Homo sapiens: one gene and its partners. The protein of the gene in region 2 purifies or fractionates together with the protein of the main gene of each other region. This does not show direct contact. Each region holds a gene or a part of one and is shown on either strand. Other genes may lie near its edges.

Region 1 (4,294 bases), on a different chromosome or scaffold from region 2:
CCATGCTGGGGGGCAGCAGCGCAATCTTAGCTCACTGCAAGCTCCGCCTCCAGGGTTCACGCCATTCTCCCGCCTCAGCTTCCTGAGTAGCTGGGACTACAGGCGCCCGCCACCACACCAGGCTAATTTTGTTTTTGTATTTTTAGTAGAGATGGGGTTTCACCGTGTTAGCACACCGTGCTGTGTGCACCCTATATGTGTATTCAGAGAGTCGTTATCTCCTGACCTCGTAATTGGCCTGCCTCAGCCTCTCAAAGTGCTGGGATTACAGGCGTGAGCCACCACACCCGGCCTGCTGGTTTCTTATTACAAAAGCTATATCATTAACAGAAAAGAATATATAAAATTCATAATCCCATCCACCGAAGAAACCAGCATTAACATCTTAATATACATCTTTTTAAACATACATCTTTATACTACGTTAAGTATAAAATGGGTACAATTTATTTTTTTTTTGAGACAGAGTTTCACTCTTCTTGCCCAGACTAGAGTACAACGGCACAATCTCAGCTCACTGCAACCTCTGCCTCCCGGGTTCAAGTGATTCTCCTGCTCAGCCACCCAAGTAGCTGGGATTACAGGCGCCTGCCACCACGCCCAGCTAATTTTTTGTATTTTTAGTAGAGACAGGGTTTCACTATGTTGACCAGGCTGGTCTCAAACTCCTGACCTCAGGTGATCCACCCACCTCGACCTAATTTATTTTTATTAAAATTGATTTTTCGCAAAAAATCTACATTTCTAAGGCTGTAAAAAACTACCGAGAGCACACAAGCCACACCAAAAATGACTTAATACAAACCAGCAATTTATATAATGATTAATGGCAAAATGTTAATCAGGAAGAAAATTTTGAGGTATCAGAAAACAGGATTGGATTAAATAAATAAGTCGGTGTTTCACAACTAAATCACAAAAGCAGTACTTGTTAATCGGACACCGCTATCTTTAGCCATCTCACCTTCTGGATCTGCACAGCCAACTCTCTTGTGGGAGCCAAGATCAAAGCTTGAGTTTCACGAACCTGGTGAAATAATTTATCAGAAAATAGAGAATCCGCAGTATTATCAAAGTGGATTGTAGTAATTCACACTCAGATCTATATGAGAAATACTATCTCATATTAATCATACTTCTCATCTCTTACAGGTTAGCAAATATTGTCATTTAAATTGCAAATCCAACAATAACTTAATGTGTCAGCATCCTCGTCTGCAGACAAGAGCTTCCTCTAGTTAAATAGAAAATCATGACAGAATATTAGTGCATATATTAGTGTACAACTAAGACTCTGTGTAAAAATTTGCTGAGTCAATACATACTAGAAAATTTTAAATTGTACTTTTTGAACACTGTAGTTACAGAAGAAAAAGCAAGTATTTCCTAGAATTACATAACAGTTTGTTTTAAGAATGGCAAATTACCTGAATATCCAAACACTGGAGGACTGAGATACTGAAGGTGGCTGTTTTTCCTGTGCCGGACTGAGACCTATTCAAGGAAACAAAAGCAGTGGGATTAGAGGGAGGACAGGCCACGCCACAGCTGCACTCCAAGGCCTGGGCTCCAGAGGCACTTAGGTACCTTCTTCCAGCAAGCCCCCGTACCTAATAACATCTTAACTGCGAGGAGGCAGGACTCGGGCCCAGTGTCACAGCTTGTTAAGTGTCCATGAAGAAAGAGAGTAGACATGGCTTCTGCACGGGGGCAATGGAGCCACAGACTCTCTAACTTCAAGAGGTGTTTCATAGGTGTCAGAAAAAGGAGGACTCCCCTTTATCTAAATACAACTCTTTTCCTTCTAGGATTTTGGACTAACTCTCTCTTCCAAAGAAATTTTTGTGTAAATGAGTCTTTTTTGAAATTAGGCAAACGAGGAATAAAGCTATTAAAAGAGGATTTGTGGTGCTAGGAGATATGGCTATATACAAGTTTTCATCCATAGTTCCTGGCTCACAGCTCCCATAGCCCTTATTACAGTCTTATTAAATTGATGGGTTAGGCCTCAGGAAACAATCTCTCTGACCTTCTGCTCTCCTTTCACCTGCTCCACAGCAGGGCTCTAATCTTCCCTGCCTTTCAGATTGTGAGTCATAAAGACCCTCATGTCACGGCGTGGTGGCTCAGGCCTGTATTCCCAACACTCTGGGACGCAGAGGCAGCATTAATTGAAGCCAGGAATTCGAGACCAGCCTGGGCAATACAGCAAGAGACCCCATTTCTAAACAAAACAAAAAACTAACCAGGAACGGTGGCACATTCTGGCAGTCCCAGCTACTTGGGAGGTTGAGGCGGGACGATTCCTTAATCCTCGAAGTTAGAGGTTGCAGTGAGCTATGACTGCACCACTGCATTCCCGCCTGGGTGACGAAGTGAGGCCCCATATCTTAACAAAAAAAATGTTTAGGCCGGGCACAGTGGCTCACGCCTGTAATCCCAAGGCTTTGGGAAGCCAAGGCAGACAGATTGCCAGGAGTTTGAGAGCAGCCTGGGCAACACAACAAAACCCTGTCTCTACAGAAAATACAAAAATTAATTGGGCATGGTGATGTGTGCCTGTAGTCCCAGCTACTTGGGAGGGTGAGGTGGGAGGATCGCTTGAGGCTGCTATGAGCTGTAATCACACGACTGCACTCCAGTCTGGGAGACAGAGTAAGACCCTGTCTCGAAAAATGTAAAAAATTTAAATTTCAAATTTTTTTTTAAAAAGCATTATGGTATTATCCCAGAAAAGCTCCTGCCCTATTCCCTTATGGGGGAAAGAATGCTGACCTCATGGAATTTTCCATAAAAACCCAAGAGGACTGGGTTCGAAGAGCTTCTAGATGGCTGAACACAGACAGTGGAACACAAGGAGGTTCCGGGAGGTGACCACCCGCCCCTTGGAGGCTGCACCCCTCCCCCCATATCTGTATCCTCTGCAGTACCCTTTATAATAAACCACTAAATGTGTTTCCCTGAGTTCTTTGAGCTGCTGTTCCAGCAAATTAATCCAACCTAAAGAGGGGATCCTGGGAACCCAACTTGAAGCTGCTTGGTCAGAAGTTCTAGAGATCCGAACTTATAACTGGTGTCTGAAAAGAGGGTAGTCATGGGGACTGAGCCGTCAACCTGCAGGATATGGCCTATCTCCAGGCAGGTGGTGTGAGTTGAACTGGAGGACACCCAGCTGGAAAAGCCCCACACCTCTGCTCACAGAAGTCTTCTTCTGTGCTGATGACTGTTGTGGTGGTGTGAGAGCAGAGGAAAAGCACAGTCTGTTTTTCCGAAATTGTGTTATATACAATTCCACATGCCAGCAAACCACTAAGCAAAGCTGGCTAAGAAAATGAAAGCCTTGGCCGGGCGCAGTAACTCATGCCTGAAATCCCAGCACTTTAGGAGGCCAAGGAGGGTGGATCACCTGAGGTCAGGAGTTTGAGACCAGCCTGACCAACATGGTGAAACCCCCGTCTCTACTAAAAATATGAAAATTAGTCGGGCATGGTGGTGCATGCCTGTAATCCCAGCTACTTGGGAGGGTGAGGCAGGAGAATAGCTTGAAACTGAGAGGCAAAGGTTGCAGTGAGCCGAGATGGCACCACTGCACTCCAGCCTGGGCAACAGAGCGAGACTCCATCTCAAAAAGAAAATGAAAGCTTTCCACAGTAGAGAACACAAATTTAAAAAAGTATTAAACCCTGTGGCTAAAGTCAGGGAAAGTGTTGGAACTGAGCGTGTACAAGCTGAGGGAAACAGTCATCCCAGAGCATCTAACTGCACTGCGCTGCCCAAATTTACATCCAGCCCTGCGCCGCACCCCAGGACAACTTACTGTGCGATGACATCTCTCCCTTTGATGATCTGCTTGATTGCTCGTTGCTGGATTGCTGATGGTTTTTCAAAACCTGCAAATAAAAACAAAAAATTAGCCCTCACCACAATGACAGCATAGAAACCCTGTACTGTGAGCTCCTCAGGGGCAGACATGGTTTGTTTTTTGAACCTGTCCTCCAGCCTAACCCAGTGTTCAACATAGCAAGCTCTCAAAACCCAGGGGCTCAATGAATTGGGCTGAGTGATTTCTACACTAACGTGGGATATTATTTGTAAAGACCAATCTCTATTTTTAAAAAACCACCAAATTGTAGAATATAGACAACAGTTTTGTTTAAAAAAAAAAAAAAATCTGGGTGTGCAGCATCTGGAAGTGTAAGTGCCAAAATGTTCCTGGCAGTTACTGCAGTAGAGGGGTGGAAAGAAACTTACTTTTTACTCTAATTACTCCCTTAGGTTTGACTGGATTACAAAC
Region 2 (4,294 bases):
AAGGGGGGTAAAAAAAAAAAAAAGATTTGAGCCCTAAGCATAAGCTCAAATACTAAAGAATACTAGACACACACAAGGAAATGGAAACAAGCCACTGAGCATGAGAGGCAGCAGAAACAAGTCTTATAGGCTGGGCATGGTGGCTCACGCCTGTAATCCCAGCACTTTGGGAGGGCAAGGGGGGGGGCAGGTCACTTGAGGTCGGTCAGGAGTTCAAGACCAGCCTGGTCAACATGGTGAAACCGTCTCTACTAAAAATGCAAAAATTAGCCAGGTGTGGTAGCGCATGCCTGTAATCCAGCTACTCGGGAGGCTGAGGCAGGAGAATCACTTGAACCCAGAAGTGGAGGTTGCAGTGAACAGAGATGGAGCCACTGCATTGTAGCCTGAACGACAAAGAGAGACTCCGTCTCAAAAAAAAAAAAGAAACAAGAGGCCGGGCGAAGTGGCTCACGCCTGCAATCCTAGCACTTTGGGAGGCTGAGGTGGGTGGATCACAAGGTCAGGAGTTCAAGACCAGCCTGGCCAAGATGGTGAAACCCTGTCTGTACTAAAAATACAAAAAATTAGAAGGGCGCGGTGGCAGGCGCCTGTAATCCCAGCTACTTGGGAGGCTGAGGCAGGAGAATCACTTGAACTCGGAGGGCGGAGGTTGCAGTGAGCCGAGATCACGCCACTGCACTCCAGCCTGGGTGGACAGAATGAGACTCTGTCTCAAAAAAAAAAAAAAAAAAAGAAAGAAAGAAACAAGTCTTATAGATGTAGATCCCCAAGGACTTCATTCATGTACAAAAATGTTGTTGTGTATTCTTGTTTCAAAAAGAAAAAAATGAGACGTTCTTTGCGGAAAGTCCCTGGAGTTTCCTGGTTCAACAGTGCTTGGACGGAACCAGGCACTCGTACCCCACTCCGGCTGGCCGCCCATAGCTAGCCCTCTGTTACCTCTTCACTGGGCCCTCTGACTGTCCCAAGGCCCCCGCCGCCACTCCAGCGCCGTGCAGCCACCGCCGCACAGCCACCGTGGCCACCACCATGACGACTGCGCGTCCCCCTCGCAGGTGCGCCAGAACTACCGCCATCAACCGCCAGATCAACGTGGAGCTCTATGCCTCCTACATCTACCTGTCCATGTCTTACTACTTTGACCACAATGATGTGGCTTTGAAGAACTTTGCCAAATACTTTCTTCACCAATCTCATGAGGAGAGGGAACATGCCAAGAAACTGATGAAGCTGCAGAACCAATGAGGTGGCTGAATCTTCTTCCTTCGGGACTTCAAGAAACCAGACCATGATGACTGGGAGAGCAGGCTGAATGCGATGGAGCATGCATTACATTTGGAAAAACTTGGGAATCAGTCACTACTGGAACTGCACAAACTGGCCACCGACAAAATTACCCCCATTTGTGTGACTTCACTGAAACACATTACCTGAATGAGCAGGGGAAATCCATCAAGAATTGGGTGACCATGTGACCAACTTGCGCAAGATGAGGGCACCCGAATCTGGCTTGGCAGAATATTTCTCTGACAAGCACACCCCGGGGAGACAGTGATAATGAAAGCTAAGCCTTAGGCTAATTTCCCCATAGCCATGGGGTGACTTCCCTGGTCACCAAGGCAGTGCATGCATGTTGGGGTCTCCTTTACCTTTTCTATAAGTTGTACCAAAACATCCACTTAAGCTGATTTGTACCATTCCTTCAAATAAAGAAATTTGGTACCCCCCGCCCCCACCAAAAAAAAAAAAAAAACAAAGAAAAAACTTCTTGTTATGGACTAGGTAAGGTACAAAAATGTTTACAGATAATTAAGGTTAAAAATTTTAAAGCAGAGAGCAGTAAGAGACTTTCAAAATGATTAGGGAGAAAATTAGAATGACACAAAAATTAGCATGGCCCCTAATTTAAAAAATACATAATAATAATAAAAATGATTAGGCAGGCAGGACGCAGTGGCTCCCACCTGTAATCCCAGCACTTTGGAAGGCCGAGGCGGGTGGATCACTTGCGTCCAGGAGTTCGAGACCAGCCTGGGTAACATAGTGAGACCCACCCGCCGCCCTCTCTAAAAATAATAATAAAAATAAAATTAAAAACTAAAAATTTAGGTGACTCCACACCCATTAGGATGGCTACTATCAAAAAACTGAAAATAACAAGTATTGGCAAAGATGTGGAAAAATCAGAACCCTTGTACACTGCTGGTGGGAATGTAAAATGGTATAGTTAGTGCGGAAAACAGTACAGTGGTTCCATAAAAAATTTAAAAATAGAATCGCCATATGATCCAGCAATCCCATTTCTGGATATCCCAAACAAATGAAAGCAGGGTCTCAAATAGATACTTGAGCATCCATGTTCATTGCAGCATTATTCGCAATACCCTAAAAGTGGAAGCACTGGGACTAAGACCCCCCCCCCCCCCGCTCCCTGCCATACACAGGGCTCAAGTGAGGGGCTGCTTGCTTAGAGTGGGACTCAGTTTTTCTAGACTTCCTAGCCTAGCACAGACATGCATCAAGAGAGAGCCTCAGACAACCACCCTTCCTACTCCAAAACATTTACAAGCTTGCCACTGCTATCTGCCTTGAGTTCACCAGGACTAATCTCATCATGTCCTTTATCCCTTATTAAGAGTCATTATAATAAGCCATAACGGCCGGGTGTGGTGGCTTATGTCTGTAATTCTAGCACTTTGGGAGGCTGAGGTGGGTGGATCACTTGAGGTCAGGGATTCAAGACCAGCCTGGCCAACATGGTGAAATCCCATCTCTACTAAAAATACAAAAATTAGCTGGATGTGGTGGCACGTGCCTACAGTCCCAGCTACTTGGGAGGCTGGGGCAGAAGAATCACTTGAACGCCAGAAGTGGAGGTTGCAGTGAGCCAAGATTGCACCACTGCACTCCAGCCTGGGTGACGGAGTGAGACTCTGTTTCAAAAAAAAAGAGAAAGAAAGAAAGAAAAAGTATTGTTTTTAAAAATTCAGTTCCCAATTCCTCTCCTCTGTCTTCCCTTGAACCCCTCCAATCAGGTCTCACCCTTATTACTCCACTAAAATTGCTGGTCAAGATCACCAGTGACCTCCATGTTGCTAAATCCAGTGGCCAATTCTCAGTCTTCATTTCACTTAACTATCAGCAGCATCTAACAGAGTTAATCACTCTATCCTCAACACACTTCCTTCTAATGGCTTCAAGTTACCAGATTCTCTTGCTTCTCTTTCTTTCCAGTCTTCTTTGCTGATGTCACTGCAATTTCTTCACACTGGATCGCCCCTGGATTCAGTCCTTTGTTGGTTGTTCTTCTATCTACAGTCATTTCCTTAGTAATTTTCATCTAATCCTAATACTTTACATACACCTATATGCAGGTGAGTCTCAAATGTTTATCTCTCCGTTATTTAGAAAGAGGGTCACTGCAGATGTAATAAATTAAGGTCATACTGAAGTAATATAGGTCATTAATCCCACGTGACTGGTGACCTTGGAAGAGAAGAGATAGAGAGATTCATGGGAGAAGGCCATGTGATGATGGACAGAGAGTCTATATCATAGTGATTACCTCTGGCAAGTGAGGTGGAGGTTTTTTGGTTGAGGAGGTGGTGCAATTTTGGGGACGAGAGAAGTAAACCATACTCTCATTTTATATTTTACATACCTCTGTATTATTACAATGAGCATGTAATCAATACATTTGTTTCGAAAATGGTGGTTCAGTTGGGTACGGTGGTTCATATCTGTAATCCCAGCACTTTGGGAGGCTGAGGCAGGTGGATCACTTGAGGTCAGGAGTTTGAGACCAGCCTGGCCAACATGGTGAAACCCCGTCTCTACTAAAAATACAAAAATTAGCCGGGCATGGTGGCACGTGCCTGTAATCCTAGCTACTGGGGAGGTTGAGGCACGAGAATCGCTTGAACCCAGGAGGCAAAGATTGCAGTGAGCCAAGATCACACTACTGCACTCTAGCCTGGGCAACAGAGCAACACTTCACCAAACAAACAACAACAACAACCAAAAAAAAACACAAAATGGTGGTTCAGAGGTTGAGAAAAGAATAAAGTAATCATTTGGTATCCTCAGGAGATTGGTTCCAGGATCCCCAGTGGATAAAAAAGATTATCTCAGGGCCAGGTGCAGTGACTCATGCCTGTAATCCCAGCACTTTGGGAGGCCAAGGCAGGTGGATTACGAGGTCAGGAGATGGAGACCATCCTGGCTAACATAGTGAAACCCTGTCTCTACTAAAAAAAAAATACAAAAAAATTAGCCAGGCATGGTGGCGGGC
Region 3 (4,294 bases), on a different chromosome or scaffold from region 2:
GGGAGCTTTAGGGAAGGGCGAGACCTTGAAATCAGAGAGAAGGAGTGGATCCCCCCCCAAGCCAGCAGGAAGGGAAATGAGGCATCCCCCTCAGGCTCAGGGCGGTACCAAATAGGAACGGCTCCTAGGAAGGTGACAGGTAGGCTGGGAAAAGAACAGGGGCTCCTGGGTATGACGCTGTGCCTGGCAACCCCCTGGGAGGTGGCTTACATGGTGGTGAGCAGAGGGGGGGTGTAGTCGGGGATGTGGTCCAGGTGGGCACGGACATCGAATCGGTCAATCATGTTGTTGGTGTCCCCCTGCCAGGGCATCCTGAAGTGGGAGGGGAGCAAGAAAGCAAGAACCTCAGGGTCCATACTGCCCAGGACACAAAGCACCTGCTCCCTGCCAGCTGAGGCTTAGAAGCCTGGCCCTCAGCCTGCTTTGGTCCCCATGCCATGACCCTCACCTCAACCCCCAGCTCTCAGTCCCTTCTGTTGCAAGCCTCCCTGAATCCACATTCAGGCTCCTGGGACCTGAAACAGGCCAGTCATCTGACTGCCCCTGGGGACACCAGGGCCCCATTTCTCACAACCAAGCAATAGTGGGGAACTTGAACCAGGTCCTAGAGGGTATTTGAGGGGCGGGCCCCAGGCACCCTGAGCCAGCTCGGGTCTGGCAACCTACTCTCTGCTTCCTCTGGGCCTCTGGCCCTGGCTCCACCCATTTCTAAGTCCTCCAACCATGACTGCTACTCTGGGGCCTCCACCCCAACCCCTGCTCATTGTTCTTACACCCTGTGACTATCACCTTCATATGCGGGTCACACCTTCCCTGCCTCTGAGTCCCCAAAGGTCTGTCCATACTTCAGTCTCTGCTCCACACTCTACACCACCCCAGGTCCGTTTTGACTCCCAGACTTCAGACACTCCCCTGCCTTCCATATCAGTCTTACATATTAACAGGGCTCTCAGCGGCCAGGGCGACTGCAGAATCCAGGTGCACCTTGCAAGCTCGGCCATGTACCTGCAGGAACTGGGCTGGGTCCTTCTTCTGCAGGGGTAAACAGGACTGAGGTCACCACCCAACAGAGCTCCAAACCCCACCCCCTCACACACAACCGAGCTTAGCAGCAAGCTCACTTCTTTTTTTTTTTGAGATGGAGCCTCACTCTGTCGCCCAGGCTGGAGTGCAATGGTGCTGTCTCGGCTCACTGCAAGCTCTGCTTCCCAGGTTCACGCCATTCTCCTGCCTCAGCTTTCTGAGTAGCTGGGACTACAGGCGCCCGCCACCATGCCCGACTAATTTTTTGTGTTTTTAGTAGAGACAGGGTTTCACTGTGTTAGCCAGGATGGTCTCGATCTCCTTACCTCGTGATCCACCCGCCTCAGCCTCCCAAAGTGCTGGGATTACAGGCATGAGTCACCGCGCCCGGCCTGCAGCAAGCTCACTTCTAAGGTCAAGTGGGCCATACCTCAGAGGTGAACCAACCTGCTAACCTTCAGAAATAAGGGAATTGGCTAGGCATGGTGGCTCACGCCTGTAATCTCAACACTTTGGGAGGCCAAGGCAGGCAGGTCATCTGAAGTCAGGAGTTCCAGACCAACATGGCGAAACCCAGGCTCTACTAAAAATACAAAAAATTAGCTGGGCGTGGTGACACATGCCTGTAATCCCAGCTACTTGGGAGCCTGAGGCAGGAGAATCGCTTGAACCTGGGAGGCAGAAGTTGCAGTGAGCTGAGATTGTGTCACCGCACTCTAGCCTGGGCAACAGAGCAAGACTCCATCTCAAAAAGAGAAAAAAAAAGAAATTGAAGAAATAAGCTATTGGTTCCTCTCGAGGTGGTGGCTCAATCTTCTGCATAGCCAGTACGAAGACCTCGCTCTCTAAAATATCAGCCCCCTTAACTCTTCACCTCCCATCCTCCGGGCCGTTCATTTAGAGACTGGTGTGGACACTTCAGCCTGGACCAGACTGCATCCGCACATGGGAAGATGACCAACATCATTAGCCATCAGGGAAATGCCAATCAGAACCACAAGATACCACTTCACCCACACTAGGCTGGCTGACATGGAAAGGACAGACTGTAACAAGCAGTGGGTCGGGCATAGTGGCTCACGCCGGTAATCCCAGCACTTTGGGAGGCCGAGGCAGGCGGATCACCTGAGGTCAGGAGTTCGAGACCAGCCTGGCCAACATGGTGAAACCCTGTCTCTACTAAAAATACAAAAAAATTAGCCAGCCATGGTGGCAGGCGCCTGTAATCCCAGCTATTTGGGAGGCTGAGGCAAGAGAATCGCTTGAACCCAGGAGGTGGAGGTAGGTTGCAATAAGCAGAGATCCCACCAGTGCACTCCAGCCTGGGGGACAAGAGCGAGACTCCATCTCCAAAAACAAAAAACAAAACAAAACAAAACAAAACACAAGTAGTGACAAGAATATAGAGAAATCAGGATCTTCAACTGGAGTGCAATGGTGCGATATCAGCTCACTGCAACCTCCACCTCCCAGGTTCAAGCGATTCTCCTGCCTCAGCCTCCTGAGTAGCTGGGATTACAGGCATGCGCCACCATGCCCAGCTAATTTTGTATTTTTAGTAGAGATGGGGTTTCTCCATGTTGGTCTGGCTGGTCTTGAACTCTCGACCTCAGGTGATCCGCCTGCCTTGGCCTCCCAAAGTGCTGGGATTACAGGCATGAGCCACTATGCCTGGCCTACTACTTGTTATAGTCTGTCCTTTCCATGTCAGCCAGCCTAGTGTGGGTGAAGTGGTATCTTGTGGTTCTGACTGGCATTTCCCTGATGGCTAATGATGTTGGTCATCTTTCAATGTGTGGATGCAGTCTGGTCCAGGCTGGGCTCTGCCTCCAGGAGATTTGCTGACACATGTTGGGCCGCACCCCACCCCCCACCCCACTCCCAACCACTCAGCCCTCACAGGTGCTGGCCTGTCCCTCTCTGATTTCTTCCCTCCCCTACTCTGCTCCAGGCACACAGGCCCTCGCCTCACGCCATTCCTTGGGCATTCCAGACATGCCCCGTGCTTCTGCTCGGACCTCTGTGCTTCTGCTCCCCCGCTTATTTCAGATCTCCTCCTAAAAGCCGTCCTCAGTGACTCTATCTAAATAGCTCCCCACTTATCTACCCCAGCTCCTTCACTCTGTGGCTTTATTGAGAAGTAATTCATATACCACACAATTCACTCACTTAACTCCACTTGTTTTCTTTTGAGCACCCGCTACCACCTGCCACTGGACCTAATATTCATTCATCACCTTTCTCCCATGTTAGAACGTAACTCCCAGGAGGCAGGGCTCTGTTTTGGCTGCTATATCCCTAAAGCCTAGAACAGGGCCTGGCCCACAGCAGGCGCTTGAGAACACCCAATGAAGGAAAGACAGGAATAATCCTTACTAACAGATGAAGACTCTGAGCCCCTTCAGGAAAAAAACACCAGCTCCAAGTTTCCAAGCTCCTGCACATCCTCACTCTGTCTCCATCTCAGCCCTCAGCCAGCAGATGAGAAGGTGCAGTCCGGGCTGAAGGAGCTGAGTCACTCACCAGGACCACAGCTAATACCTGGCTAGTTTCAACCCCGCACTCACTATGTGCCAGGTGCTGGGCTGCTGTGACTCTCATTTCACACCTAAAGAAACTGAGTCTAAGGAACACTCAAGACCACAGGCCCAGCGAGGTGGCGCTGCTGGAGTCCAGCTACTCATGCTGCACCTCGCCTGCCTCCCTCGATTCCTTAGCTGATTCCTCAGCTGGGGCCACACAGCGCACCCAGCTCCCTCTGCCCTGGGACAAGCCAGCCAAGTCCAAGGCCAAGATCCCATCATACTCCTGAGGCTGCTCCAGGCCAAATGCCCAGTTCCCACAGCCAGGACTCATGGGACACTGTTTGCAGGACAGAATTTGGCAGGTACAGGGAAGCTACTGGCAGGGTCAGCTTCACAGAAAGGAATAAGCACTGAGCCGGGAGTAAACACCAGGAGTCCAGAGCCTGGTTCTGTTGGGAGATTCTGGAAAAGTCAATGAACCCTACTAAAAACCAGGCACTGTTTTATGTGCACTGTCTCACTCGAATGTCCCAACCATGGAAGAAACATACTATTCTTTTTCTTTTTTTGAAACAGAGTCTCGCTCTGTCACCCAGGCTGGAGTGCAATGGCGCGATCTCGGCTCACTGCAACCTCTGCCTCCCAAGTTCAAGGGATTCTCCTGCCTCAGCTTCCCGAGTAGCTGGGATTACAGGTGCCCGCCACCACGCTTGGCTAATTTTGGTATTTTTAGTAGAGACAGGGCT
Region 4 (4,294 bases), on a different chromosome or scaffold from region 2:
TCTGGTGATGTTGTAGTGAACAAACAGCCACAGACAAAAGTGAATGAACTCGTGTGGTTGTGTTCCAATCAAACTTTATTTGTAACAGGTAGCCAGCTGGATTTGGTAGTCTGACCCCTGAAAGTGTCAGTCAACCCAACCCTCTGCACAGACAGGGAAGTTCCCTCCAAAGACTTTATCTCAGCTCCTCAGCTAGCTGCTCTGCATCTACTGCTCCCACCTTTCCCCTGACACTGGGGTGCAGAAGCCTTACCTGAGTGACTGTCCGGCATATTTTCAGCCCCTTGTCATGGGTCCCATCATCGCCATTACGCTCTGTCTCATCCTCAGAGATGCGAGAGTCATCAGCATGAAGATCCACAACAGCCTCCTGCCCCGCCAGGGGTTTGATGTCGGGGATGAGGCTCTGGGACACAGATACCCCCCACCCCGTTACACTGGGCCCATGTCTACTCCCACCTTAACAGGTCTCATCCTCCCTTCCCTGGCTCCTCCCACCTCACCTTTAGTGATTCAGTGGTGATACTGATGGAAGGTTTCTTCTGTGTGGTGGCTGTGCTGGCTCCCCAGCGTCGTTTCCGACCAGGCTGGCCCCCCTCTGTGTCACTGTTTCCAGCTGGCACCCCCTTGGTAGCTGCTGTCCCCAAGAAATAGACCCAACAGTTAGATGGTCTCAGGACCTCTGCTAGTTCAAACCGTAATACCTACAGGTTACCTCTGGCTGGAGTTTTGGTAAAAGGTTAACTTAAAGAAATCATATTTGGAGGCTGAGTGTGGTGGCTCACACCTGTAATCCCAGCACTTTGGGAGGCCAAGGCGGGTGGATCACGAGGTCAGGAGTTTGAGACTAGCCTGACCAACATGGTGAAACCCCATCTCTACTAAAAATACAAAAATTAGCCAGGCGTTGTGGTGCATGCCTGTAATCCCAGCTACTCAGGGTGCTGAAGCAGAATTGCTTGAACCCGGGAGGCGGAGGCTGCAGTGAGCCAAGATGGTGCCACTGACTGCACTCCAGCCTGGTGACAGAGCAAGACTCCGTCTCAAAAAAAAAAAAAGAAAAGAAATCATATTTGGGAACTGGGGAAACCATGGCTTCAGACTGAACACTGATCTAAAAGCAGTAAGGGAGGGGTAGCTAGTTTGATGAGCCGTTTAAACTTTTAATGGTAGACAGTAATATCAAGTAGTGTGGAAGAAAAACTGAGAAGGACATGTAAATGCAGAAGAAACAAGAACACTATGTGATACTAACATCTAGGCAGAACTAAGATCATGATGGGATCTGGTCTTCCTTTAATTTTCACACTACAGATTGATATTTAAGTTATAAACATCTATTATACTTTTGTAATCTAGAGTTCCTCATTGGGGAAAATGTTAAAATTGTTACTGTTTGAGGTGTGGGGCACTTTCATTTCCTTGGGTGCTCTCTTAGAATAACGCATAAACAAGGTCAGGCACGATGGCTCACGCCTGTAATCCCAACACTTTGGGAGGCCAAGGCAGGCGGATCACAAGGTCAGGAGTTCAAGACCAGCCTGTCCAACATGGGGAAACCCCATCTCTACTAAAAATACAAAAATTAGCTGGGCATGGTGGCGCATGCCTCTAATCCCAGCTACTCAGGAGGCGGAGGAGGATTGCTTGAACTGGGACCCGGAGGCGGAGGTTGCAGTGAGCCAAAATCGCACCACTGCACTCCAGCCTAGGGTACTACAGAGGGAGACTCCGTCTCAAAAAAACAACAACAAAATACCCAGAATAATTCATAAACTGCTAAGCATCACATAGGAGTCCCTGAAACTCATTCCTTGTTGAGTATTCAGGTATCTGAAAGAATAAATGCCTCTAAGGCTAAATGGGACATGGTCTCAGACACCTCACACTGTATCTCATTAAAATGTGACTGGAGCAATATGATGGGGATTGTCTCAAGTTTTGAATTCCAAAATGAAACCCTACATAGGAAAGGATTCAGATTTGCTAGGCACAAGGGGTGGGGCAGGAGGGAGTGACCCAAGAATGCCATTGAGAATGAAATTCTGGTTCTCAATGAATGCTGGTTTTTATGGTATTCCTGACTTTTATCAGGGATTTGGGGCTGGACTTACAGACAACGGAGATCTTCCTCTTGAATGATTTGGGCAGCGAGCTCTGTATGAAGAAGAAAAAGGGGAAAAAAAAGAGAAAGAGAGACACCCCACAGAGAGGGGGGAAGGAGGTTAGATGGGGCAGTCTTAGCTTAGCCTCCAAAGACACAGATAGAGTGAGAGAGAGAGACAGAGAGAGACACAGAGACAGACAGAGACCAAAACAGAAGCGGCAAACGGCAAAAACGAAGCAGAATCAATGCAAGTTAGAGAAAAAAATAAAACTAAACATCAGAGCAGGGAAAAGTCATCTACTCCGTATCACACCTGTGTATTAGCTTAACCAGAAATAAGCTGGAAGAGGAGTTCAGTAGCCTCTCAGCCCCCTAAAGATGTTGGTCATACCCCCTCTTTCACCGTCTGAGTCGAGAGGACACCAAGCCAAACAAACTGTGCCCCAAACTGGGTCATCTAGTCCTCCCAGGTCCTTCCTTGCTAACTCGAGGAAACAAGGAAAACCAACTTTGGATGGCAACTTCAACAAGGTAACCCTCCTTTCTTCAATGGCCAGACTGATGCCCACTGACAATGGCTTTGAGATGCTTGGACAGCAGACTGTCATGTCAAGACTGCCCAGACCCCCACCACACTGTGGAAAAGGGCAGCACCAGACCCACTGGAGATGAGGCTCTTGAGCCAAGTGCTAGCAAAAAGAACTCAAAGGTGTCTTTGATAAAGGAAGGTTTTTATGAAGGGCAGATTGTCCCCAAGGAGATCCTTAGACTTTCCAGCCACCGCAGGGAGCTCCAGCAGAGTCTTACTGTTTCCTCTCCAACCAGGGCTCAAGCCTTAGGGGCTCTGCCAAAGACCAGAAGACATCTTTGGGACAAGTCTCTACCCCAAACACTCAGTGGGTGAATGACGAAAGACTATGGGGGGCGGGGGAGAAAAGTGAGAGAGAAAAAGGGAATAGAGTATTTTCAAGTGTAGGTGCTTATTTCTGGAAAAACTAAGACCACTCTACCACTCTTCTAAAGGGTAGGGCAGAAACCTCGTGATGAAATCCCTTTCCCATCCACCCCCACCCGCAGCCCCGTTTGTGTCGTCTAACCAAGTCTCCTTGGTCTCTGTTAAGGGCCAGCCTGACCCCTAGCTGGGCCGCTCTCGATGGGTAAGTTAGTGAGAAAAACAAAACAAAAAAAAAGGTCTTAATTAAAACAGGAAAAACATGAACCAAATAAATAAATAAAAGAAATCAGAAAAAATAAAGATATAGAAAAAAATAAAATAAAATATTAAAAAAAGAAGAAGAAAATAAAGAAGAAAATAAACTAGGAATATGACAAATGTTCCAGGTACCATCTCACACCTGGGATCTTCAGTTCAGCCAATCGCACCTCACTGTGTACTGTATCTAGTCAACCGCCGGTCCAATCAGAATGAGCCCTCCCTGCTAGGCGCTGTGCAATTGGTGGGGGGTTGGGTTGGCAAAAAAGGTGGGCGCACGGCGTGGTAGTCAGCACGGCACTGCCAGAGTCCTCCCAGGGGCGCAGGGGGGGCGGGAGGGAAACGTGTGGGGGGACGCTGCCCAGTTTCCATGATGTCAAGACAGTTCACTGGCGGTGGCCAGGCTCAGCGAGGGATAGAGGGGGGAAAGGGGCAGAGACATCAGTCCTGGCCCTGAAGGGACATCATCTTGCAGTCCCTGATGAGATGGCCTGTGAGTAGCAGGAATGATCCTTGCCTTTTATCGTGAGAGGCAGGCAGGACCCTATGTCCACCAGTGGCAAGCTGCAGCAATAACACCACCCAATACTTGGAATCCAGGTGATGACTCCAGAGTCCCTTTCTCCTCTGCCTGTAACTGGGGAGGGGGTCCTCTCACCGAGTGGGATCATGGAGCCTCTGATGAAGGTAGCCTGGGGGTAGGTGAATACCCCAGGACCTGGCAGACATTCAGCAGCAAGGTCAGAATACTTCTCTTCGGAGAGTTGTGGCTGGCATCTCCTCAGGGACTCCAGCTGAGACAGTGGTTCCAGTCAGGTGGATGAAATGAGTCCCTGCCTCCAGGGATGGAGGAGAAGTTGGAGCAACCAACATGCTGCCCTTCACCATGGACAACAGGGACCAAAGGAAAGTCCATCTGATGAGCAAGTGGTGACACATGGGCTGGGCTGTCATCAGCATTAAATCCCCAGGGG
Region 5 (4,294 bases), on a different chromosome or scaffold from region 2:
AAGTGGGAAAATAAAAAGATGTTTATTTGGCCCCATACAGACTCATCAACCTAAGTAGGGAGTGGAAAAAAATTCTAACTTGCATATCCTACTTAGTTTAACAACAAAACTACCTTTCTAAGGCTATCAAACTTATATGCATATGAATTATGCTTCCAACACTTGCCAGAAGACAATTCTGCTTTATAAATAAAAGTACTATTGGGGGGGGTGGGGAAGCATTTAATAAACTCAGCCCCACTAGTTAAAAACCCAGAAAACTCAAACTAAAACTAGAGTCTTTTTTTCACTGGTCCTGTTTTGAAGCCATCAAAAAAAGCTTTCACATCAATCTTATCAAATAATTAACAGAATCAATGAATAAAGGACATGTCTGCTACATATCATAACATCTGGTTATTCTTTGCTAACATCACAATAACCAGAGGTAAAACAATTTATCAGTTACTAGCTTTAACATTTGGTAGAAATAAAAACAAATGACTAAATGAGATTACAGCTTATCAGCTAACTTAATATACACGATCTATCCTAGAAAAATTGAGTAAGAATACACAAAAAGTTCAGAAATATCTATTAACAATATTAATTACATAGCATAATTAAGATCTCAATATGGAAAGAACATAGCCTAGGTACTACCTAAAAGGAGTTCTATTTGTAGGCGTTTGCCTTAAGCAGTTTGTGATTTGATCAGTAAAAGAAATATATTCTATCTATATAATCCAAAGGGGCATAATCAGGCATTTTTAATAAAAACAAACAATTATTCCAAAACAGTCTGCAGTAAGAATATGCAATGGTCCGTCAATCATCATACTCTGGTCTCCCCATATTTAAGTTACCTACAGAATTCTAAGTAGTTCCCTCACACCTTTGCCTCCTTGTGCACTTACTACTCGTTTATCTCTGTATCTTGCTTCATGTGGTACTGGATGATGTCCTGAGTAAGGGGGATGAGCTTGAGGAGGTGGAGCATGGTGCTGATAGTAAGGATGGTGTGGAGGTTGTTCCATTCCTGGGTAAGGGGGCTAAAAAAGGAAAACCATTTACATTAAGAATCTACCAACACCCTTGTAAACAAGCGATTCTTAGAACCCTTCATCCAAAACACCAATCCCAAACAAGTGAATCTGTACTAGACATTTACTTTGATGGCATTAAGGTGTTTCAAAATATGCTTTTTGTCGAAAATTACACATCTTCTAAGATTTAACATGTTTATGCTTTTCTACTCCTATCATATAAATAACAATGGAAATAGCAAACACTTACATGGTGCTTACTGTGAGCCAGGCATTGTTCTAAGCACTTTACTAGTCTCATTTAATTCTCACAGCAACCTTATGAGATAGATACTATTGTTCCCAGTTTACAAAAGGGAAAACTGAAGCAACAAGGAGTTAAGTAACCTGCTTATAGTCACACTACTGTTAAAGTGGTGAAGCAGGCATACGGCATCAGGCATCCTAGTTCTGCAGTTGGTAAACTGGTTAACCACTTTGTATGTATCTGTTCTTAGAAACATCAACAGGCCTGGTGTGGTGGCTCACGCCCATATCCCAGTGCTTTGGGAGGCTGAGGGAAAAGAATCCCTTAAGCCAGGAGTTGGAGACCAGCTTGGGTAACAGAGTGAGACCTTGTCTCTATAAAAAAATTAGCCAGGCACAGTGGCATGTGCCTGTAGTCCCACCTACTCAGGAAGCTGAGGCAGCAGGACCACTTGTGCCCAGGAGTTCAAGGCTGCACAGAGCTATCATCACACCACTGCATTCCAGCCTGGGAGACCGAATGAGACCCTGTCTCTCAAAAAAAAAGTCCAGGAGCAAATTAACTTTTAAATGCCATTTAAAAAATGAATAAAGGGTAAATTAAAGATTACTTTCATAGTTACTATCAAGATCATATATTATTAAATTTTTAAAATTTCCTAGAATCTAAAGGGGAAAAGTCTCATAATCATCTGCATATAATAGTATAAAACTGTATACCTTAAAAGTGAAACAAAAGTCAGATGAAGAGGCCATATAACATATTGCATTTAAAAAAAGACATAAATTAAAATGTAAGAAAACAGTAGAAGCTACTTCAACTTCCAGGTTTTTATTTCTTGAAAATTAATGCTTCAGCTATCTTCAATATCTTAAAATATACTCTAAGACAATTCAGTTTTCTTAAAGGAAATAATTAAAAAGCAGGAATAATCAGGGTTTAATTAATCTTATTTTACACAGAAAATTTAGTGAGTATTAGATCAGGCACTATGCTAAACTTAACATGTACTTTGTAAATTTATCTTGACAATGAAAATGACACTACTACATTAAATTTTAAGCTATACCAGGACAGTCATGATGTCAATTTCATTCACCATGATATAATCAGAACAAGCACAGTGCCTTGCACAGAGTAAGTACTAAATATTATATTTGATAAGACAAAGCATCAGTGAATGCCCATGGAATTTTACAGATGAGGAAAACTAAGAGTTGTATTAAGAAATTAACCCAAAGTCACAGAGTTGGGAAGAAAAAGAAATATATCTGAACCCAAGCGGACTTTGCACTACTAATTACTACCATAATACACTATTACAGTTCTCAAGCCTGTACTATTAACACAAATGAGCTTTTAGTCTTTAGTTTGAAAGACAGCATACAATTATTTATCATCAAAAATCTGTATTTTAAGTCTTTTTGAGATGGAGTCTCCCTCTGTTGCCCAGGCTGGAGTGCAGTGGCGCAATCTCGGCTCACTGTAACCTCTGCCTCCTGGGTTGAAGCAATTCTCCTGCCTCAGCCTCCCCGAGTAGCTGGGAGTACAGGCACACGCCACCACACCCAGCTAATGTTTTTTGTATTTTTAGTAGAGACAAGGTTTCAGTTTCACCGTGTTGGCCAGGCTGGTCTCGAACTCTTCACCTCAGGTGATCTAGCCGCCTCAGCCTCCCAAAGTGCTGGGACTGCAGGTGTGAGCCACGGCGCCTGGCCAGTTTAAGTCTCTTTAATGAGTAACTGTAACAATCATATTCCGAGTAAGCACCTGAAATACTAGAACTGCAAATTAAGTTATGTAACTTATAAAAATAGAATAATACAAACCATTCCTTGCCAAGGTGGTGGTGGTCCCATGTTATGAAATTCCCTCACATAATCATTGTAGGACTAAAATAAAAGATGATAATGTCAATATAATTAAAAATTATCACAGAACTGCAAAATAAATCAGAGCCTGATTTTATCCACATTAAATAGATAAAATGAAATGCTTACCCCATTTAAAAACACATCTCGGCGAACTCCTGAAAATCGTCTGTTGGGAATAAGATTTGTGAAACTAAATTCAGGTAATTCATAAACTAGTTCCAAGAATGTAATTCAAAACTAGGCAAGAGTGAACCCGACTTACCTGTCCACTTCCTGGTATCGTGGATCCTTTAAATACCCTGTTCAAACATCAAGCATTTTAGTAAATCAAATTTATATTTTTCTTTTATGGCATTATAATTAAACCTTCCTTACCACTCGTTTCAATTCTTTCCATGAAATATGTACTTTAAGTGATGCTACTACTGTATTATCCCATTTTCAAATTTTCTTCTCAGATTACATGATAATCTAGGAAATAACTAATGATATCATAGAATTGTAAACTGCTAGAGAAGCTTTCAGATAGGTATCTTCTATGTTCACACTCCAAATCTTGCTAATCAGAAAATTTCTTCCTTCTGCTTCACAGGGAAGGTAAGGGCAGAGGAACTATCTTGAGCACACTATGACAGGACTTCCTTAAAACAAATGTTTACTTTCCACCTTGGGTATATGTAGGTCTTACCAAGAAAACCACAGATAAGCTTTTTAAAATGTAAACTTAAGGGGGAGGGGGAAAAAATTGCAAAAGTTGCAAAAATGAAGATGTATACACTGAAAATGAAAAATCGATGGTGGTTAGAAAAATATTCTTTCCCCTGCTTCTTTTAATAAGAACCCAACAAATTAAAATGTAAAAACATTTGAGTAGTCATGTTACTGGGGAAAAACTATTTTCACTTTCTACAACAGGACAACCTATTTTGGAAGAATGAGGCTAATCAAGCCACTTGTTACATAATAGTGCTATAATGATCACTAACATCAATCTCCTAACTGCCTAAGTTTCACAAGTGTATCACTGACTCTCTTCAAATACATGATATCCCTTCTTGAATATAGTTTGCTCTCTTAAATTTCAGTAAGGGATAGATTAATTGAAAAGCTACATTTAGATTACATACCGAGTATTTCCCATTCCTCTC
Region 6 (4,294 bases), on a different chromosome or scaffold from region 2:
CACCATGCCCAGCTAATTTTGTATTTTCTTCTTCTTTTTTTTTTTATTTTTTATTTTTTAATTTTATTTTTTTAGACAGAGCCTCACTCTGTTGCCCAGGCTGGAGTGCAATGGCGCGATCTCAGTTCACTGCAAGCTCCGCCTCCTGGGTTCACGCCATTCTCCTGCCTCAGCCTCCCAAGTAGCTGGGATTACAGGTGCCCGCCACCATGCCCAGCTAATTTTTTGTATTTTTTTTTAGCAGAGACGGGGTTTCACCATGTTAGCCAGGATGGTCTTGATCTCCTGACCTTGTGATCCGCCCGCCTCAGCCTCCCAAAGTGCTGGGATTACAGGCATGAGCCACCGCACCTGGCCTAAAAAAATAAAAAAATTTTTAAGGCCGGAAAGGAACATACCAAACAGATAATAATGGTTATCAGTTACCTCTAGGAGGGGCACTGGGATGAGTGTAGAGGTAAGAGGACTTTAACTCTATCTGTGCTATTTGAATTATAACCAGTAAAATTCACTTATGCATTTTCTTTCTAAAACAAAAATCTTTTCAATAGATGACAAAAAAGGAAAAATAAATTTAAAAACCCAAAACTCTATCACTGGAATAAGCAAAAATATATTTAGAAAAATGTAAATGCAAAAAACCTAACATATAGAGCATAATCACAATATAGGAGCCACCCCAACACAACCCTTTAGAAACTGGAAGGAACAGCCAGGCGAGGTGGCTCACTCCTGTAATCCTAGCGCTTTGGGAGGCCGAGGTGGGCAGATCATGACATCAAGCGTTTGAGACCGGCCGGGAGCAGTGGGATGTTATCCCAGCACTTTGGGAGGCCGAGGCGGGCGGATCACGAGGTCAGGAGATAGAGACCATCCTGGCTAACACGGTGAAACCCCGTCTCTACTAAAAAAATACAAAAACTTTGCCGGGCGTGGTGGCGGTCACCTATAGTCCCAGCTACTCGGGAGGCTGAGGCAGGAGAATGGCGTAAACCCGGGAGGCAGAGCTTACAGCAGTGTGCCGAGATCGCATCACTGCACTCCAGCCTGGGCAACACAGCAAGACTCCATGTCAAAAAAAAAAAAAAAAAAAAAACTCGAGACCACCCTGGCCAACATAGGGAAACCCTGTCTCCACTAAAAATACAAATTAGTACTGGGCACAGTGGCTCACGCCTGTAATCCCAGCATTTTGGGAGACCAAGGCGGGCGGATCACAAGGTCAGGAGATTGAGACCATCCTGGTTAACATGGTGAAACCCCGTCTCTACTAAAAAAACACAAAAACTTTGCCGGGCATGGTGGCGGGCGCCTATAGTACCAGCTACTCAGGAGCCTGAGGCAGGAGAATGGCGTGAACCTGGGAGGCAGAGCTTGCAGCAGTAAGCCGAGATTGCGTCACTGTACTCCAGCCTGGGCAACAGAGCAAAACTCCATCTCAAAAAAAAAAGAGCTCGAGACCACCCTGGCACCAACACAGTGAAACCCTGTCTCTACTAAAAATACAAATTAGTACTGGTCACGGTGGCTCACGCCTGTAATCCCAGCACTTTGGGAAGCTGAGGCAGGTGGATCACGAGGTCAGGAGATCGAGACCATCCTGGCTAACACGGTGAAACCCCGTCTCTACTAAAAATACAAAAAAAAAATAAAATTAGCTGGGCATGGTGGCAGATGCCTGTAGTCCCAGCTACTCAGGAGGCTGAGGCAGGAGAATGGTGTGAACCCAGGAGGTGGAGCTTGCAGTGAGCCAAGATTGGGCCACTGTACTCCAGCCTTGGTGACAGAGCGAGACTCCATCTCAAAAACAAAAAAAAGATACAAATTAGCTGGGCATGGTGGCATGCGCCTGTAGTCCCAGCTACTTGGGAGGCTGAGGCAGGAGAATTACTTGAACCCGGGAGGCAGAGGTTGCAGTGAGCCGAGATTGCACAACTACACTCCAGCCTGCGCAACAGAGCAAGACTCCATCTCAAAAAAAAAAAAAGAAAGAAAGAAAGAAAGAAACTGGAGGGAACAATGCCCTAATGTATTAACAATCATCACATATGAGGTGTGAAAATGTGAGTGGTTTTTTTCTGATTTTCTGTATTTTATAACTTTTTTTTGTTTGAGATGGAGTCCTGCTCTGCTGCCCAGGCTGGAGCGCAGTGGGACGATCTCGGCTCACTGCAACCTCTGCCTCCCAGGTTCAAGTGATTCTCCTGCCTCAGCCTCCTGAGTAGCTGGGATTACAGGTGCCTGCCATATGCCCAGCTAATTTTTTTTGTATTTTTAGTAGAGACAGGGTTTCACCATGTTGGCCAGGCTGGTCTCGAACTCCTGACCTTGTGATTCTCCCGCCTCAGGCTCCCAAAGTGCTGGGATTACAGGCATGAGCCACTGCGCCTGGCTATAACTCCTCTGTAGTAAAAAATATATTCCTTCATAATTAATGGCACAATATTTAAACTCTGAATTATTTTTAAGGGATGGTAGTGGCCTATGCAAAACTAGCTGTGGAATAATGAATTTTAAAATAAGCAGCATTTAATAAAAATAGAACTATATTTTTTTTAAAATAGAAAAGCCAACTAGAAGGAGATATAACAAAATGCTAATAATGGTGAAAATACTGGCATCATTCTTCTCTGCCTCTCATACTTTTTCCTATGAAGTGTTGACTACCTTTCTAAAACACAAAATCAAAACCGACTAAAACTCCAGACTAACAGTTTCAAATTATATTCAGGAGGTTTGGCTGAAAGAAGGAGGAAAGGTGGGTGTGCCCTATTTGGATTCACACAAAAGTAGCTCCACTTTTCTCCTTTTTTTTTTTTGAGATGGAGTTTCGCTCTTGCTGTCCAGGCTGGAGTGCAATGGCACGATCTCGGCTCACCGCAACCTCCACCCCTCAGATTCAAGCAATTCTCCTGTCTCAGTCTCCTGAGTAGCTGGGAGTACAGGCATGCACCACCATGCCCAGCTAATTTTGTATGTTTAGTGGAGACGGGGTTTCTCCATGTTGGTCAAGCTGGTCTCTAACTCCCTACCTCAGGTGATCCGCCCACCTCAGCCTCCCAAAGTGCTGGGATTACAGGCATGAGCCACAGTGCTGGGCCTCACTTTTCTCCATTTTTACATTTAGGGTTTGGCCCAAGATTGTATTTGTTCTTTGGTTATCATTTGTTCAACTAATAAGTAACTGAAACATGACCTGATTCAATGAACTTCAGAGCCTGCCCCAATCGTTCTGGGAAACTTCAAATAGGGAAACTCCTTGTCCAGACTGACAGATTAGCACCTGCCAAAGGCAGAATCCTGCACCAGCCAATCCTGGGCACACTTTCCAGCCCCAATTGTATGGCATGGGCCTATGATTCTATCCCAGTTCTTAAGAATTCTCAGTTAAAATCTGGGAACAATAATTCCTACACTATAAGGCTGTTATGCAACTAAGAAAAAAAAGTAAGAGCAGTTAGCATATAGCATATCTACTCTTATGATTATTACCAATGAAAGGCTAAAACTGTCACAAACTTACTTACGTTCTTTTTCAAACAGCTCTCTAACACCAGGCAAATCTTTTGCTGCTCCAAAGTACTTGTAACCTCGGTTTCCTGGGACTTCTTTTCCTTCATGATCCAGCATTTTAGGGCCAACTTTCTTATTGGGAAGAAAAAAAGAGAAAATGGATCTGTTAGTTAGTTAGTTAGTTATTATTTATTTATTTATTTGAGGCGGAGTCTCGCTCTGTTGCCCATTTATTTATTTGAGGTGGAGTCTCGCTCTGTTGCCCAGGCTGGAGTGCAGTAGCACAATCTCACTGCAACCTCCACCTCCTGGGTTCAAGTGATTCTCCTGCCTCAGCCTCCTGAGTAGCTGGGATTACAGGTGCGTGCCACCACGCCTGGCTAATTTTTGTATTTTTAGTAGAGACGGGGTTTCACCATGTTGGTCAGGATGGTCTTGAACTCCTGACCTCATGATCCACCCACCTCGGCCTCCCAAAGTGCTGGGATTACAGGCGTGAGCCACTGCGCCTGGCAGATCTGATCTTTAAACCCACTATTTCCATGTTTGCAAATATATTTTAAGATAATAGCTGGATGCAGTGGCTCACACCTGTAATCCTAGCACTTTGGGAGGCCAAGGTAGGCGATCACTTCAGCTTAGGAGTTCAAGACCAGCCTGGGCAACATGGCAAAACCCTGTCTCTACTAAATATACAAAAATTAGCTGGGTGTGGTGAGACATGCCTGTAATCCCAGCTACTCAGGAGACTGGGGCAGGAAGAATTGCTTGAACCTGGGAG
Region 7 (4,294 bases), on a different chromosome or scaffold from region 2:
ACTGCACTCCAGCCTGGATGACAGAGCGAGACTCCATCTCAAAAAAAAGAAAAAAAAAAAGTGTACGTGTATAATTTACTTAACTGTTTTTCTGTTTATAGATTCTTAGGTTATTTTTAATTTATCATTATTATAAATGATCATGTAATAAATATCTTTGTAAATATACAGAAATTTTTGTACAAGTTTTTGATAGTTCATTTAGGATTAAATCTGTTGGGTTATCTTGTTTTTAGAGTGGTGAATGAGGTAAAGGTCTATAATAAAGATGGAAGGAGCAGCAGTTGTATAGTGTAATAACTTAAGTCCAGTAATATTCAATAAGGGAATTGAACTTATTCAATTGAATAAGTCCAACTGAAGCAATTTAGAACAAATAATATGACAAATTCCCAAATATAGGGTTAATTCTCATTGGATTAGGTTCTTAAAGAGAGGTCTAAGGCCAGGTGTGGTGGCTCATGCGTATAATCCTAGTGCTTTGGGAGATCAAAGAGGGAAGATCACCTGAAGCCAGGAGTTTGAGACTAGACTGGACAGTAGTGAGATCTCGCCTTTACAAAAAAATTAAAAAAATTGGCTTGTGCAGTGGCTCACACATGTAGTATCAATTGCTCTGGAAGCTGAAGCGGGAGGATGACTGACTGAGCCCAGGAGCTTGAGGCTGCAGTGAGCTGTAATCAGGCCACTGCACTCCAGCCTGGGCAACAGAATGAGACCCTGTCCCTTAAAGAGAGTGAGGTCTTTAAATGAAATAGATGTTGACACTGCATACCATTCAACAAGTAATGAAGACTCTTAAGCTTTGCCATTATAAATTTAATGGTGATGCTTTAGGCACTGTTGGTAAAACTGAACTTTTTACCCAAAATTTCTTACTTTATTTGAACTTAAATTCTTACGAATATATATTTGTTTTTGCCAGTAATCTTTTATTTATTTTTTTTTTTTGGAGGTGGAGTCTCGCTCTTGTCACCCAGTTTGGAGTGTAATGGCACGATTCTGGCTCACTGCAGCCTCCACCTCCTGGGTTCAAGCGATTCTTCTGCCTCAGCCTCCTGAGTAGCTGGGATTACAGATGCACGCCACCACGCCCTGCTAATTTTTGTATTTTTAGTAGAGACGGGGTTTTACCATGTTGGCCAGGCTGGTCTCAAACTCCTAACTTCAGGTGATCTGCCCACCTTGGCCTCCCAAAGTGGTGGGATTACAGGCTTGAGCCACCACACCCGGCCAACCAGTAATCTTTATTTTATTATTTAATTTGAAATTTGATGAAAACAATAACAGAGCATTTCATCTAGATTGAACAAGACTTGTTTTCCTTATCGCCTCCCTCCCTTTACCACTCACAAATACTTATTTCACAAATGTACTTGGAGCAATTAAAAGATATTATAGGCTAGGTACCATGGCTCATGACTGTAATCCCAGCACTTTGGGAGGCTGAGGCGGTAGGTCACTTGACTTCAGGAGTTCAAGACCAACCTGGGCAACATGGTGAAACCCCATCTCTACCAAAAATACAAAAAATTAGGTGGGTATGGTGGTGTATGCCTGTGGTCCCAGCTATTTGGGAGGCTGCGGCTGGAGGATAGTTGAGACTGGAAGGCAGACGTTGCAATGAGCTGTGATTGCACTGCTACACTCCACCCTAGGTGACAGAGTGAGACCCCATCTCAAAAAAAAAAAAAAAAGACATTATAGTTACCATACAATAATATTATAGCATGTTAAAGCACTTCATAATTTTACAGTAGTATTTTTTTTTACTATTATTAATGCTAGCACTACTACTGCTGCTATTGATAACTGTTAGTGAAGGCTCACTGTATGCCAGTATTTGTACTAATTGTTTATATGCCCTGTCTTATTTTATTTTCAGTAACCCTGTGTGGTAGTTTGTGTTATTAGATCTGTTTTGTGGGTAAGGAAACTGAGGCTTGGAGAGGTCAGGCACTTGCCTAAGAGTTCCAGCCATCAGTAGTGAAGGCAGATGTTTTGAACCAGTCTTCCAATTCGAGAGTCTGAGTTCTTTTTTTCTTTTTTTTTTTTTTTTGAGATGTACAGTTCCAGAGTCAGAATTCTTTTTTTTTTTTTTTTTTTTTTGAGATGGAGTCTCGCTCTATCACCAGGCTGGATGGAGTGCAGTGGCGCGATCTTGACTCACTGCAACCTCCGCCTCCCGGGTTCAAGTGATTCTCCTGCCTCAGCCTCCGAAGTAGTTGGGACTGCAGGTGTGCGCCACCACGCCCAGCTAATATTTGTATTTTTAGTAGAGACAGGGTTTCACCATGTTGGCCAGGATGGTCTTGATCTCTTGACCTCATGATCCACCCTCTTCGGCCTCCCAAAGTGCTCGGATTACAGTCGTGAGCCACCGTGCCTGGCCAGAGTCTGAATTCTTAAGTAGTACACCATTCTGCCCACCCTCACTCAAATGAATGGAAATTCTGAAGCTCTATCATATTCATTTGGATAAAGAGATGTAACAATTAGAATTTGTGTCTGTTATGTCTTCACACTTTTAAATTATTTTCTCTCTGGGTTTTGCAGGCACACAGTTATGACTCTCAAATGGAGTCTCATAACATTTATACACTTTAAGTTTAAAAAAAATCCTGATCTTGTGAATTTTTATTTTCCCTAAAAATCTTTATAAGCACATCATTTTAATGAATCTAGGGCTCTGTTTTATTATTTGTTTTTTCTACTTTGCTTTCTGTTAATTTCATATTTCGAGGAATATAATGGGATTATTTTAAATATCTCATTATTTCAATAGCAGTAATATTTGATGGCTTTCCTAAACCAACTTATTTTATATAATCTCACTCATTAAAAACTGTCAATTTAGGGTTGAAAAAAGTTGTTGAGATATTAAACATTTTTATATTTTTATAACAGGTTATTGAAGATATATATGAAAAAGAGATTGTCAAATCAAGGTAGGAATGAATTTAAATTTTATACAATGTGATTGGGGTGGACCAAGTTGGATCTTGGCTGAACTTCTAAATGTGATCATAACTTGAACCCTTTTTCTGTTTCAAACTGGTCGTCAGGGCAATGGTGACTAGAAAAACTTTAGGTGCTGAAGAGTCATAAATTATTTTTTGCCTTCTAACTTTTGGCTCAGATTAGAGGTATCAAATCCCATAGGGTTTATTTGGATTTAGATGGAATTTGAGAAAAAGTAAACATGAAGATTTTATTACTAGTATTATTTCTGATTCACCTTTTAAAAATATTCTTAAAAAGTTATGAAAGTAAGACATTATTAAATTTACAATAATATAGTATACATATGTAATGTATAAAATGTATAATAATAAACACAGAAGTGATAAAAATTATTTTTGAGCAATATGCTGTAAGGGGTGAGTTTCAATAAATCATCTTTTCTGCCCCCAATCCCTGGTTCATGTATATGGTTCATATACATCTGTTCTATTCCCCACGCCTTCACATGTTTTTTCAAACACAAAAGGGTTTGTACTCTACATGCTATTTTTCATCATGCTTCTTTTAAAAAATTTAACAGCGTGTCTTAGGCATCTTTTTGTATATACACCTGCAGACATGTATGTCCAGTGAGTATTTTAAAAGGATATTTGACTAAATGGGTCAAAGGCCATCTTCAGGATTTTGTTCTTTATTTGGAAAACAGTAGGAAGTAAGAAGAGTTGTAAGCACAGTGGTATTTGAAAAAGAGAATTTGGGTTTGTTTGTTTTTTTTCTTTTTTTGAGACAGGGTTTCACCATGTTGGCCAGGCTAGTCTCAAACTGCTGGCCCCAAGTGATCCACCTGCCTTGGCCTTCCAAAGTGCTGGGATTACAGGCATTAGCCACTGCACCCAGCAAGAATTTGGATTTGGAGGGAGCAAGAGGCAGGGAATTAATTAGGTGAGCATTGTAGTAGTCAGCTTCAAGATGTCATAGATTTGGCTTGTGTGGAAAGTTGGGAGCGGAATTGTCCATTTGAGAAAGATAGAGGTGGAGAGACTTGATGTTTGGATGTGGCAGATGTAGGAAAAGGAAGAATCAAAGATGATCCTAAAATTTTTTGCTTAAGTTGCTGAGTGATTAGTGATGCCATTACTGACTTTTGCCACGTTGTTGGGGGTAGGATTGGGTGTAGATCTTTATTTCACTTTTGGATATATTGAATTCTAGCTACTTAAGAGCTATGAAGATGGAGATATGGAATAGGCAGTTGGATATCCAGGTGTATAGCTCAAAAGAGATTGGGTTGGCTGGGCATGGTGGCTCATGCCTGTAATCCCAGCACCTT

Evidence for each region.
Region 1: the proteins of SNIP1 (region 2) and EIF4A3 purify together in Homo sapiens (affinity purification with mass spectrometry; 4 studies listed by BioGRID and IntAct, with this or other methods). This does not show direct contact.
Region 3: the proteins of SNIP1 (region 2) and CLASRP purify together in Homo sapiens (affinity purification with mass spectrometry; 4 studies listed by BioGRID and IntAct, with this or other methods). This does not show direct contact.
Region 4: the proteins of SNIP1 (region 2) and ACIN1 purify together in Homo sapiens (affinity purification with mass spectrometry; 5 studies listed by BioGRID and IntAct, with this or other methods). This does not show direct contact.
Region 5: the proteins of SNIP1 (region 2) and YTHDC1 purify together in Homo sapiens (affinity purification with mass spectrometry; 4 studies listed by BioGRID and IntAct, with this or other methods). This does not show direct contact.
Region 6: the proteins of SNIP1 (region 2) and ISY1 purify together in Homo sapiens (affinity purification with mass spectrometry, with the first as the bait; 4 studies listed by BioGRID). This does not show direct contact.
Region 7: the proteins of SNIP1 (region 2) and AQR purify together in Homo sapiens (affinity purification with mass spectrometry; 4 studies listed by BioGRID and IntAct, with this or other methods). This does not show direct contact.

The regions. Positions count from the first base shown.
Region 1 is NC_000017.11:80,140,355-80,144,648, forward strand, and holds part of EIF4A3 (eukaryotic initiation factor 4A-III), read right to left. Parts: intron 3,891-4,294; coding exon 3,818-3,890; intron 1,495-3,817; coding exon 1,428-1,494; intron 1,028-1,427; coding exon 965-1,027; intron 1-964. UniProt on the Homo sapiens protein: ATP-dependent RNA helicase. Involved in pre-mRNA splicing as component of the spliceosome. Core component of the splicing-dependent multiprotein exon junction complex (EJC) deposited at splice junctions on mRNAs.
Region 2 is NC_000001.11:37,543,731-37,548,024, forward strand, and holds part of SNIP1 (smad nuclear-interacting protein 1), read right to left. Parts: intron 1,729-4,294; exon of another isoform or gene 833-1,728; intron 1-832. UniProt on the Homo sapiens protein: Required for pre-mRNA splicing as component of the spliceosome. As a component of the minor spliceosome, involved in the splicing of U12-type introns in pre-mRNAs. Down-regulates NF-kappa-B signaling by competing with RELA for CREBBP/EP300 binding.
Region 3 is NC_000019.10:45,048,809-45,053,102, reverse strand, and holds part of CLASRP (CLK4-associating serine/arginine rich protein), read right to left. Parts: intron 1,033-4,294; coding exon 935-1,032; intron 313-934; coding exon 211-312; intron 6-210; coding exon 1-5. UniProt on the Homo sapiens protein: Probably functions as an alternative splicing regulator. May regulate the mRNA splicing of genes such as CLK1. May act by regulating members of the CLK kinase family.
Region 4 is NC_000014.9:23,063,852-23,068,145, forward strand, and holds part of ACIN1 (apoptotic chromatin condensation inducer in the nucleus), read right to left. Parts: exon of another isoform or gene 3,509-4,294; intron 2,158-3,508; coding exon 2,115-2,157; intron 638-2,114; coding exon 504-637; intron 407-503; coding exon 254-406; intron 1-253.
Region 5 is NC_000004.12:68,315,418-68,319,711, forward strand, and holds part of YTHDC1 (YTH domain-containing protein 1), read right to left. Parts: intron 3,446-4,294; coding exon 3,409-3,445; intron 3,337-3,408; coding exon of another isoform or gene 3,313-3,336; coding exon 3,273-3,312; intron 3,165-3,272; coding exon 3,102-3,164; intron 1,032-3,101; coding exon 897-1,031; intron 1-896. UniProt on the Homo sapiens protein: Regulator of alternative splicing that specifically recognizes and binds N6-methyladenosine (m6A)-containing RNAs.
Region 6 is NC_000003.12:129,136,841-129,141,134, forward strand, and holds part of ISY1 (pre-mRNA-splicing factor ISY1 homolog), read right to left. Parts: intron 3,646-4,294; coding exon 3,528-3,645; intron 357-3,527; coding exon of another isoform or gene 291-356; intron 1-290. Other genes in the region: ISY1-RAB43 protein, read right to left, coding at 3,528-3,645. UniProt on the Homo sapiens protein: Component of the spliceosome C complex required for the selective processing of microRNAs during embryonic stem cell differentiation. Required for the biogenesis of all miRNAs from the pri-miR-17-92 primary transcript except miR-92a.
Region 7 is NC_000015.10:34,959,428-34,963,721, reverse strand, and holds part of AQR (RNA helicase aquarius), read left to right. Parts: intron 1-2,907; coding exon 2,908-2,948; intron 2,949-4,294.